2 separate regions of the Homo sapiens genome follow, and region 2 is linked to region 1. The links come from fine-mapping of genetic effects on gene expression. A gene starts in region 1. The other region holds a variant in brackets. All regions are shown on one strand. Distances are between the middles of the regions.

What was found.
Region 2: its variant is fine-mapped to the expression of B4GALT1 in aorta (GTEx, PIP 0.95).

The regions. Positions count from the first base shown.
Region 1 is chr9:33,164,529-33,170,011 of GRCh38, forward strand. It overlaps B4GALT1 (beta-1,4-galactosyltransferase 1), which reads right to left and starts at 2,808. Exons shown (of 6, transcript NM_001497.4): 1 at 2,230-2,808. The coding sequence starts at 2,641. B4GALT1-AS1 (B4GALT1 antisense RNA 1) reads left to right here and starts at 2,420. Exons shown (of 3, transcript NR_108110.1): 1 at 2,420-2,518. RefSeq lists silencers at 2,560-2,833, 2,592-2,991 and enhancers at 2,659-3,224, 3,142-3,241, 3,225-3,789, 3,312-3,391.
Region 2 is chr9:33,110,705-33,115,704 of GRCh38, forward strand. It overlaps B4GALT1 (beta-1,4-galactosyltransferase 1), which reads right to left. Exons shown (of 6, transcript NM_001497.4): 5 at 3,070-3,174; 6 at 1-2,882. The coding sequence ends at 2,750. Among named protein-coding and RNA genes, the nearest start is that of MIR12117, 4.5 kb to the left of the region's middle. RefSeq lists an enhancer at 887-1,486. The variant G/A (reference allele first, on the strand shown) is at 2,364.

The DNA of each region.
Region 1 (5,483 bases):
TCTCTCCTCGTCCTCCAAAATGTTCTTTCTCAGGAAGTCCTTTCAAGTAGCCAATTATAGTCCATTTAGAAACACCAGTAACTGGTGACAAGCCGATCACTAGCAACACCATTACAAAACAAAACTAAGCAGAGGTATGGTCACGACCTTGTCTCTTACGCTTCTGAGAGAAGATGTGATACTCAAATACCAATGTAATCAACTTTGCGGTACTTTTGTTTAACTTGCTAATTATTTTTTCTTTCTGTGCAATATCCAGGCAACAACTAAAAACAAAAGCAAAAAACCTGGCCTTTTTCTGGCCTGGAGACTCAGTCTCTCTCCCCCTTCACTCTGCTGTGCAGAGCCATTTCTGTGGGAGTCTGAAAAAATGAAACTTTTTAAAGATCCTAAGCAAATATTATTACTATATTATTATTATACGGTGTATTGAGTGCCCGTATTTTTTTTTTTTTTTTTTTTTTTAGACAGTCTTGCTTCGTCGCCCAGGCTGGAGTGTACTGGCACAATCTTGACTCACTGCAACCTCTGCCTCCCAGGTTCAAGCAATTCTCCTGCCTCGGCCTCCTGAGTAGCTGCGATGCCACCACCCCTGGCTAACTTTTTTGTATTTTTGTAGAGATGGGATGGTGTTTCACCATATTGGCCAGGCTGGTCTCAAACTCCTAACCTCAAGTGATCCACTCCCCTCAGCCTCCCAAAGTGCTAGGATTACAGGCGTGAGCCACCATGCCCAGCCTGAGTGCCTGTATTTAATGTACACGATCTCATTTAGTCTTAAAAAAACCCCTGTAAGGTAATCATCGACAACCACATTTTACACAAGGAAGAGATTTTGAGAAACTCGATAGCATGTCTCAAGTCAGACACTTAGCAGCAAGGCAGAGTCCATTTCATTTTATGGGACTAGTCTGCTTCCCAGAATAATCATCAAATGCAAAGGAATTTAATTATCTGCTTAAAAAAACAAGCCCCCATTATTACCACAGTTCACGTCTGACCAATTCCAAGATGTTCTTCCCAAACTTGATATGAACACATTGACGCAATTACTGGCGAAATTGAGCAAGAGTATGTAGTAGCCAGGGCTCTGTGGGAAAGTGACAGAAAACTCCTATTGGCAGGATGTCATCCTGCCTGCCAGGGCCCCTCACTTACAACAATTATCTAAAACCTAGCATTAGAAATGAGAAACCACCTGTGTGGTAACCCTGGAAGCAACCTGTGGTTGCCTTGGGCCTGTGGGCCTGTAGGTTACAGGTCAAAGAGAAGTCCAGACTAGGCTCAGCCAGCTGCTATGAGGAATGCAAACTCACCTACTCAAGCTCTCTGCCTATGCTGAAACAGGCTAGAGGTCAGAGTTCAGATCATCTGGGCAAGATAATTGAGACTCAGGCTGCTACCGGAAGTACCAGAAATGGGCAACGTGGTGTTGACTGGTTATATTTTAGCCCTCTAACACCCAGAGTACACAAGCTCTCTGCCCCTGGGAGAGATCCCTGCTCACCTAGGTTTTGGGTACCCATACCAGGAGGAGGCTAGGGGGAAGGGCTCTCGGTCACGATCCACACAGAGGAAGAAATGAACACACAGTGACAATTTACTGAGGGCTTACCCTCATTAATTAAGCCCTTATTTACCATTGTTCACAATATCTTCCAAAACAACCCCTTGAAAGGGTGACCATTTATTATCCCAGAAGAGAAATATGAGGTTCAGAGAGAAGTCACTTGGCCCAAACGATCAGGAGAAAAACCCACTCAGGAGAGTGGCTCTATGGCAAGACACGTGAACCGAGAGGTCAGTCTCCTTCCCCACCGGGAGCCTCACGTCAGTCCCCAAAAGGGAGTGGATTACTCGAGGTCCCTACCAGAGTTCTCAGTGCAAGGCTGCTCGAAGCCCTAAGCAGACCCAAACTCCAAAACTTCCTGAGCCTCGGGCCACAGCAGGGAAGTCTCCAAGGCCTTCTCTGGTTCTGGGGCTAGAGGGGCCTCGGGACTTCCCTGTGCGGTCCCGGCCCCACGCCTCCAACAGGACTCCCCAGGGACCCACCTCGCAAACCTTCTCTCCCATCCAGTCCCAAGCCTCTGTCTGGGATTTAAAACTCTGATCCAGAAGAGGGAGGCTGGCTGTCGTAGAAGAGCCAGCCTGAGGGAATGTCTGGGGGACCCTGTCGGGGAAATCCGGGGGGGTCCCAATCCTCCGACTGGCGCCGACCCGAGTCCTTACCAAGCAGCGGGGACTCCTCAGGGCAGGCGGGCAGCGACAGTGCGGTGGTGTGGGGCACTGGGACCGAGGTCAAGTTGCTAGCGGGGCCAGGGCCAGAATCCACGACTGGGCTGGAGTCGCCACCCGGGCGCGGCTGGGAGGAGGCGCCTAGAGGAGGCGGCGGCCGGGCCCCTCCGGTCCGGAGCTCCCCGGAGGACTGCCCGATGGCGGCGGCACTGTTCGAGCCGCCCTGCAGCGGTGTGGAGACTCCGACCAGTTGGGGCAGGCGGCTCAGGTCGCGGCCAGCCAGGTAGTAAACGAGGGTGACGCCAAGGTGCAGAGCGCAGACGGCCACGAGCAGGCGGCAGGCCCGCTGTAGGGACGCGCCTGGCATCGCGGCGCTGCCGCTCAGGAGCGGCTCCCGAAGCCTCATCTTCCCGCCGCCGCTTTAAGAAGGGTGTGGGCTACAGGAGGGGAGGCGACCCGCCCGCGGGCCGCCCGCCAGGCGCTGCCCCACAGCGGCGACTAGGGGAGGGCCCGGAGCGGGGGCGGGCGAGCGGCTGAGAGCTGAGACTCCTCCAGCCAGCCAGACCTGGGAGCGGCGAGAAGCCGCCCGAGGCGCCGGCGGAGAGGGGAGGGGCGGGGCCCCGGCGAAGGCGGGGGCGGGGCCGGGCGCGGGGTTTTCTGGACGAGGGCGGGAAGGCGGGGCAGCCCGTGGCGGGATGGGCGCGCTGGGCGGGGCCTCGGGAGGGTGGGCAGCGGGCGGGGCGCCGTCGTGGGGTCCCCGGAGTATGACTGCAGCTCCGACGCTTGGCCGCGCACCGCCCTCTTCCTCCCGAGCCTTTGCGGCGGAGCTTCGGTCGCGTTGAGCCGCGCCTCCTCTTCCTCCTCCACGCTGCCCTCGACAGGCCGCGCCACTTCCTGGGGTGCGAAGGGACTCGGGTGCGAGCCTGGGCCTGCAGCGCGGCGGCGGAGAGAACGGAGAGGACAGCTGGCGGGTGGTTATCTGGAGTGGTTTGGGGCCGCGGCGGCGTTCTGGCCAGTGGGCCTTGGTGGGCTAGGAAGAGAGGCAGAAAAAGGTTACCCAGGAAACGGGCTTCGACGCCGGGCGAGGAGTGGCACGTTCGAAACCCCCTCCCTAACTCAGCCCGGCTGGACCCCGCTGCTTAACGGGGGGTCCTGCGGCAAAGAAAGTGGACGGGTTGCCACTTCTGTGCCTCCCCATCAGGTAGCCTGGGCTATAAGGGGCTCTCAGACCAGCTTGGTTCCAGATGTGTGTGTGGCGGGAGTCCTGTATACTTTGAAGAGGAGAGCAGCAAGAAGCCTCTAACTCCCAGGCCAGCGTGCAGGAGATCAGCCGGCGTTACAGTCTACACTGGGCTACCCACTGTCCCATGAAGTAGCAGTTCTCCCCATGTCGTAGAGTGGGGCCCCGGCAGATTAAGAAACTTTCCTAAGAGCCCACAGCTGGCAAGAGGCAGAATTCTGGCTCCGAAACCCATGTTTTCTACAGGTTTACCCTTTGTTGATTTGCAAGTAAGGGCTGAAGGCTGTGTGGGTGAGAGACTTAGGCACTGAAGCCACTTGACCTCGATTTGACCCAGAGGCCTCAGGCCCTGAGTGAGCAGAGACACCTCACCCCAGAGAAAGACTCATGGAGGTGCTGTCAGTAATGTGGATAGGGAAGTTGAGGGCTCTGGCAGCCAACCATCAGGGAATAACAGTAGCTACCTTATTTTGAGAGTTTGCTGTGTGCCAGTACTATCTGCCATGAAGTAGGTGGTGTTACGGTGTCCATTTCACAGATGAGAAAATAAGGCTTATGAGTTGACACTTTGGTTGTGATCATACAGAATCAACTTTCCTCACTTGACTTCCTGGACACCAGGTCCTTCTGATCTTCCTCACTTCACTGGCCATTTCTGTCTCCTCTCTGGACTTCTTCCCCAGTTGCTGAAGGCCCCAGCCATAGTCCATGATGTTCTTTTGTGTCTACACTTACTGCCTCGGAATGATTTATAATATCCAAATGCTGATCACTGATTTGTCTCCAGCCCAGATCTCTTCCCTGACCTCCAGATTCAACTGCTTATTTTACTGGCATCTCAAACACAATACATCTTGCCCTCAGCAACCTACTCCTTACACACCACTCCCGTTCTTACCTCCCTCAGAGAGTGATACTATTGTTTATTCAGTTCCCCAGAATCTAAAAGGTGTCCTTGATGTGCTTCTCTTGCTCTCAATGCCATTTGCAAGCCCTCAGCCAGCTTTGTCAGTGCTACCTTCAAAACATCAAAATTCACCACCAGCCAACTCTGATGTAACCATCCTCGATCAAGCCACCATCATCTTGCCCTGGGTTATATGGCAGCTACTAATTGGTCACCCTGCTTCCACCTCCTCCATTCCTCCTCCCTAGTCTGTTTTCCACAGAGCATCCAGGAAATCTTTGTAAGCATAAATCAGATCATGCCATTTTGTTCAGAACCAAATCCACAGAAACCCTGTTCAATCTGGTTCCTATTTCCCTCCCCACCCACATCTGTCACTCTACCATGCTGGACCTGCCTTAGCCACACTAGCCTGATAGCTATTCCTTGAACTTGCCATATTTCTTCCTGCCTCAGGGCCTTTGTACTTGCTGTTCATTTAGCCTGAAACACTTGTCCCCAATATTTCATTCAATTCAGGTCTCTTAAATGTCACCTTATGACAGAGACCTTTTCAGACTACCTTATGCAGAATGGCCTCCTGCCCAAATCTGCTTAAACTGCTTGAATTTTTTTTTTTTTTTTTTTGAGACAAAGTCTTGCTTTTGTCCCCCAGGTTGGAGTGCAATGGTGCAATCTCACCTCACTGCAACCTCTGCCTCCCGGGTTCAAGCGATTCTCCTGCCTCAGCCTCTTGAGTAGCTGGGATTACAGGTGCCTGCCATCACGCCGGGCTAATTTTTTGTGTTTTTAGTAGAGACGGATTTCACCATGTTGGCCAGGCTGGTTTCAAACTCCTGACCTCAGGTGATCCGCCCGCCTCGGCCTCCCAAAGTGCTGGGATTACAGGCGTGAGCCACCGCGCCCGGCCTTAACCTGCTTGATTTTTTTCAGAGTGGATATCAACTACCCAACATTATGCATTTATTTTCTGTTGTCTTGCCTCCCTCATTAGAAAATCAGCTTCATGAGAACAGGAAATTTCTCTCTTGTTCACTACTGTATCTTCAGCCCCTAGATTTTTTTTTTTTTTTTTTTGAGACGGAGTCTCACTCTGTCACC
Region 2 (5,000 bases), 54 kb before region 1:
TGTTTTGAACACCAAGATCAGACACAGCCCCCTACACAATGGTAAATACACACATTTGCATACACAGGAAATCAAAATACACAGCACAACAGGTCTCTGGGACATGAAAGCCGTCATCCTGGCTATGCAGAGCCCCCGCCCCTGGCAGTCAGCAGAGACCCTGTCCAGGCTGAAGGCCAGCACAGCATCTCCTTTACTGTCCTGTGCCACCTCTGCCCTCTCTGATCTTTCCCAAAGGCCAGTTCACACAGAGTCACCAGCAATAGGATACACAGAAACAGAAAAGGGCACGGCACATGACAACTTCGCGGTCATAACTCCCAGGAAAAGGAAATGCTCCCTGAACCCCCAGCCCTGAAATCCCCAGTAAGGAAACAGGACCCGCGGCATCTCACGGACCAGGCAAACATCCAGGCCTAACTGTGCCCTGGCTGTGCCTTGGGCCCAGGTGAGCCCATGAGAGCACTACGTCAGCAAATGGGGGGAGCAGTATTTCCCTTGGTTCTAAGAATGAACCACATACTTGACATGAATGAGAAGGTAACCAAAAAAAAAAAAAAAAAAAAAAAAAAAACAACAAGAAAAGGTAGAGTTTGGTTTTAAGAGTAAAATAACACAGAAGTTACCACTCAGGGCATTTGTCTGATTTCTTTTAAGGCACTTTGGAAAAGTCAGGATCTGCGGACAGAAAGAGAGGCTTTCATTCTTCTTATTTCCCACAACTCCCTCTCAATGCAGTCATTTCTAGTTTTAATAATATCCTTGGTATAGAGTGGGGAACTGACAGAGAAATACTTTTTGCATAGTCCAGCTGCTTCTGCAATGGAAAATAATTTTTAACCAATACAAAGGCTTCTGGAAAAAGAACCAAGTTAGCATCTGAGATGCGCAAAGCAGTAAAGGCACAGATAAGACTGGGGCCAGGCACCAGCTCAGCCTCCACACTGAGGGCTGGTACCCAGGAGGGCAGTGGTTTGGGGTCCGCCACGAGCACAAGGCTCAACCCTGGGATTAGGCAGCTGAGTCTTGGAACCTGAGCCCAGGCTGGACCTGGCAAAGGCGCTCAGTGGTAGGAGTGCCTTGTGTCATCTCATCCCAGGTGGCTCAATAGCTCCCAACAGAGGTGGGTTTGTGACAGACAGCCCTGTGGGTGGGAGCCTCAACTGGGGTGGGAGCACCTGTGAAAACCTGAGGTGGAACAGGAGGCTTTAGGCACCGAAGTTCTTGGGAGGGAGTTGGGGTGTGGGTTCGGCTGAACTTCTTTCTAGATCACTAATTAAAAGGCACATTCATGCTGGGGAATGGATAGTCTGTTTGACCCTGAGTGCCACAGTCAAGTTTTAGGGGACAGGCAAGAGGCAAAGGAACAAAAAGGGAGACGAAGGAAGGAATGAGAAAGGCAGGGGAAAAGAGGAAGGAGGAAGAACTGGTAACAAAGGGTGGGCCACGGAGTGTGGCTAGCAGAGCCTCTGAGGGAGGTGGCCCCCACCAGAACAGAGGCTCCCTCTGCCTGGGGAGGTGCAAAGGGCTGGTAAACAACCTGACTGCTGTTATTTACAACCCCCCAGCCTAGGGGCCTGAGGGGTCAGTCTAAGGAGGCTGAGGCTCCCTCCGCCCTGCCCACCTGGGGAGGGTTGGGGAAGTGGAGAGTTCTGCACAGTAGGTGCAGAGGCTTCTGTCTCCCAGGTATCCTCCCCGAGGTCTGGCAGGATAATGCTGACCGGGAGGCCTTACCTGCCAAGGGGCCAGAGGGTGATTTTGCTCTTGAGAAAACCTGGCCTGCCAGCTAAATCATAGGCCTATTTGTGGCCACTACAGCATATATTTATTTTTCTCCCTAAAAAATGCTCAATACCCCTCCCCATATTTAAAACACCACAATAAAAATACATAGGAAATTCAAGTTTACATAGCATGCCAAGAAAAATAAATTGTCATGACTTAACATTAAACAGCTATGCAAATTTGGATCAACACAAAATCAAGCTAGATCATAATTAGAACTCGATCTGTTCTTTCTTTAAAATACTACAAACTACTATTTAAAAAAAAACACAACAACTTTACATTCAGAAATCAGACAATCTGGAGATAGGCCACTGAATGCGAGAAACCCAAGGCTTTTGCTCTGATGCTAGAGTTGCCCTGGAATCCACACACATAGGACAAAAGGTCCAGGGCTCAAGTTTTAAAATCCTTTTGCTAAGAAAAGACATATGCACAGTGATTGCAGTGGTTGCATACCACTGAAAGAAGGGGGTGGGGGGAGGACGTAACATTAAGAATGGTTGAAATTTTGTGTTTTTCTGTTAAATTACAACTACCAAAAAGATCACACCAATCCAATTTTAGCAGCACTCTCC[G/A]AATTTTCACGAATAAGAAAACCATAATTTAAAGAAAAATTCTAACCTATTTCACGACAATTTAGCAATTCTATCACCGGGAATGTGTTCCACGGCCACCAAATTTTGGGATGTGTACAGTTCTGACTCTGGGGTGACACTGCGAACACATCAAGAAACCCGCAAAGGCATAAACACCTTGCAGAGCTAAGAATTCACATGCCGAGCCAAGTTGGGGGCAAAATATCCCACTCGTCCTGGTCATCTGGAAAGCCATCTGAATGATGAGCGAAGGGGACCTGTCACTCAGACTGGTAAAAATGAGAGGGACCAGCCCAGCAGATTGGCAGAGACACACAGCAGAGGTCCCTGGCTAATTTCAGGTCTCTTATCCGTGTACCAAAACGCTAGCTCGGTGTCCCGATGTCCACTGTGATTTGGGTATACAATGGGTATCTCTGTACATCCAGCACCTGGTAGGTGAGTGAGTTCAAACCATCAGAGAGCATTGTCTCCTTTGTGTGTGCAATTCGGTCAAACCTACAAGGAAAAGAGCACAAGGAGATTGTCTTAAAACAAAAATCTTAAGAAGAAATCATCACACGTACTTCCTCCTCCCTCTCCACTGTAACCTGACCACCTCAATTTCCCTCTAGGCCCAGAGCCTCGGACCTGCAGCCTACCTCATCCTAAAGGGGGAAGGAGTATGAATAAACAAAGAATGCACCTCTGAGGATTGGGTTCATTTTTCTTGTCTCTTGAGTGGCGGATCATGCGACACCTCCCGACCACAGCATTTGGGCGAGATATAGACATGCCTCTAAAAACTAATCTGCAAAGAGTAAAGGGAAAGTCATTATCACAGAGCTGCCATACACTTGGCCTGAGAGCCCCGGCTGCAAGACTGTTGCTCCATCCACCATCACCCTTGCTGTTCTCACTCAGCCCACAACCCAGCATCATGCCAGAACCCAGCCCAGCATGACCCTGGTTAAAACTCACATTCCGACTCCATGTCCTTTTACAACTGGTTCTGCGGTTTGTGGTGTTGACTACCATGTGCCAGACACTGGGGCCGTGTGCCCCACAGAATATACAGTGTGAATGCTTCAAACATAGGGCCTTTAGGGCCAGGATGGAGGTGAGAAGAGGAAGATGAGGTTGGAGACACAGAGGAAGAAGCATAGAGTTTGTAACCTCTGCTGGAGCAAGCCTAGGCAGAGCCCAGTTGAGGATGAACAGGTATCTGCCATAGCATTTTGGGCAGCCAGGATGGCACAGGCAAAGGCATGGAAGTGAGAGCAAGCCTAGTGCCCTCAGGGAGCAACGTAAGCTCCTGGGGACTGGTGACAAGGGTCTGGGGTAGGACGTGGCAGGTGATGGGCTGAAAAGGGCCAGGCTAAGTCACAGAGGCCTTCTCAGAGCATCCCACAAACGGTTGCCAGTATCTGAAAGGGGCCTAATATACAGTATTTCCAAAATGCTTTTAGCCATGGGGAAGTCTCTGGAAAGTAGTATACGAATGGAGGGCTTCAGAACATGTGGGAAAAGGCAGAAAAAAACAAATGGAGGGCTGAGAACAAGACTAGAGGCAGCCAGAACAGGGTGGAGGATTCTGTGTTGGTCCAAGGAAAAGGAATGAGGACCAAAATGAAAGCCTGGAGAGCAGGACAGCAAAGTTAGTTAAGAGGCAGAACTGGCTGATCCCAGACCACTTAAACATTCCTGGCCTTGCCTGGCACACAGTAAGTGGTGCATAGAAAGTGTTAGGTCCTTTATCTTTCAAGAAAGTTGCTCCACACACCACCCATCCTTCTAGTGCCACTGCGTTAGCATGGGACTAGATGCCTGCGGATGCTCCCTCCCTCCCCAGCTGTTCTGACCATTCAGACCTGTGGTATCCTGTCGGCCCTGCACACTGTCATATCAGTCCAGAGTGTCTGCCCAGGAGTGCCTCTGTGGAAGCAGGCTTGCTTCTGTCTGGACCCTATGTCCAGGTTTTCAGTGTCCTGGGCCTGCCTGGCACAGTGCTCTGTATGCAGCAGATGTTCAATGTGCACACACTTGATACCCCATCTACATACTAAAACTGGAGTTTCCTTCAAGGCTTATATTGAAGACGTGGGTCTCTGTTAAGTTTGCACACAATGGTAACTTGAATGACTTGGGTGTTGCTCTGACAGACACCTTCTGTTAACTGGTACTGCAATTTAGAAAGGCTGCACCAGGGTGTATTCTGATATTAAACTCAGTAATGAGCTCAGACTGGCTCCTGGAGGGAGAAGGTGCTCATCGGTGGCTGGTGGGGTTGAAGCCTCTACAGCCAGAGGACTGAGCAGAATGTTCTTTCAAATGCTACTGATAGATGTTTTTTACCACTGTAAATGACAACCCACATCATAATGATTTACCAGCTTAAAAAGAGCCCCAGGATGTGGATGGGACAGAACTGACCAGGCCATAATGGTTGCTGGGGCTGGATAGGTCCTCAAAGGTTTATTATACTACAGTATCTCTTTTGTATATGTGAAAATACTCCAAAATAAAAATATAACACAAAGCTTCTGTGAAGACAGTTAGGATTCTGCTCAAGGAAACTTGTTTCACAGTGAAAGGGGACCATAATGAAAGGAGGGATTTTTACAAAGGACATTGGTT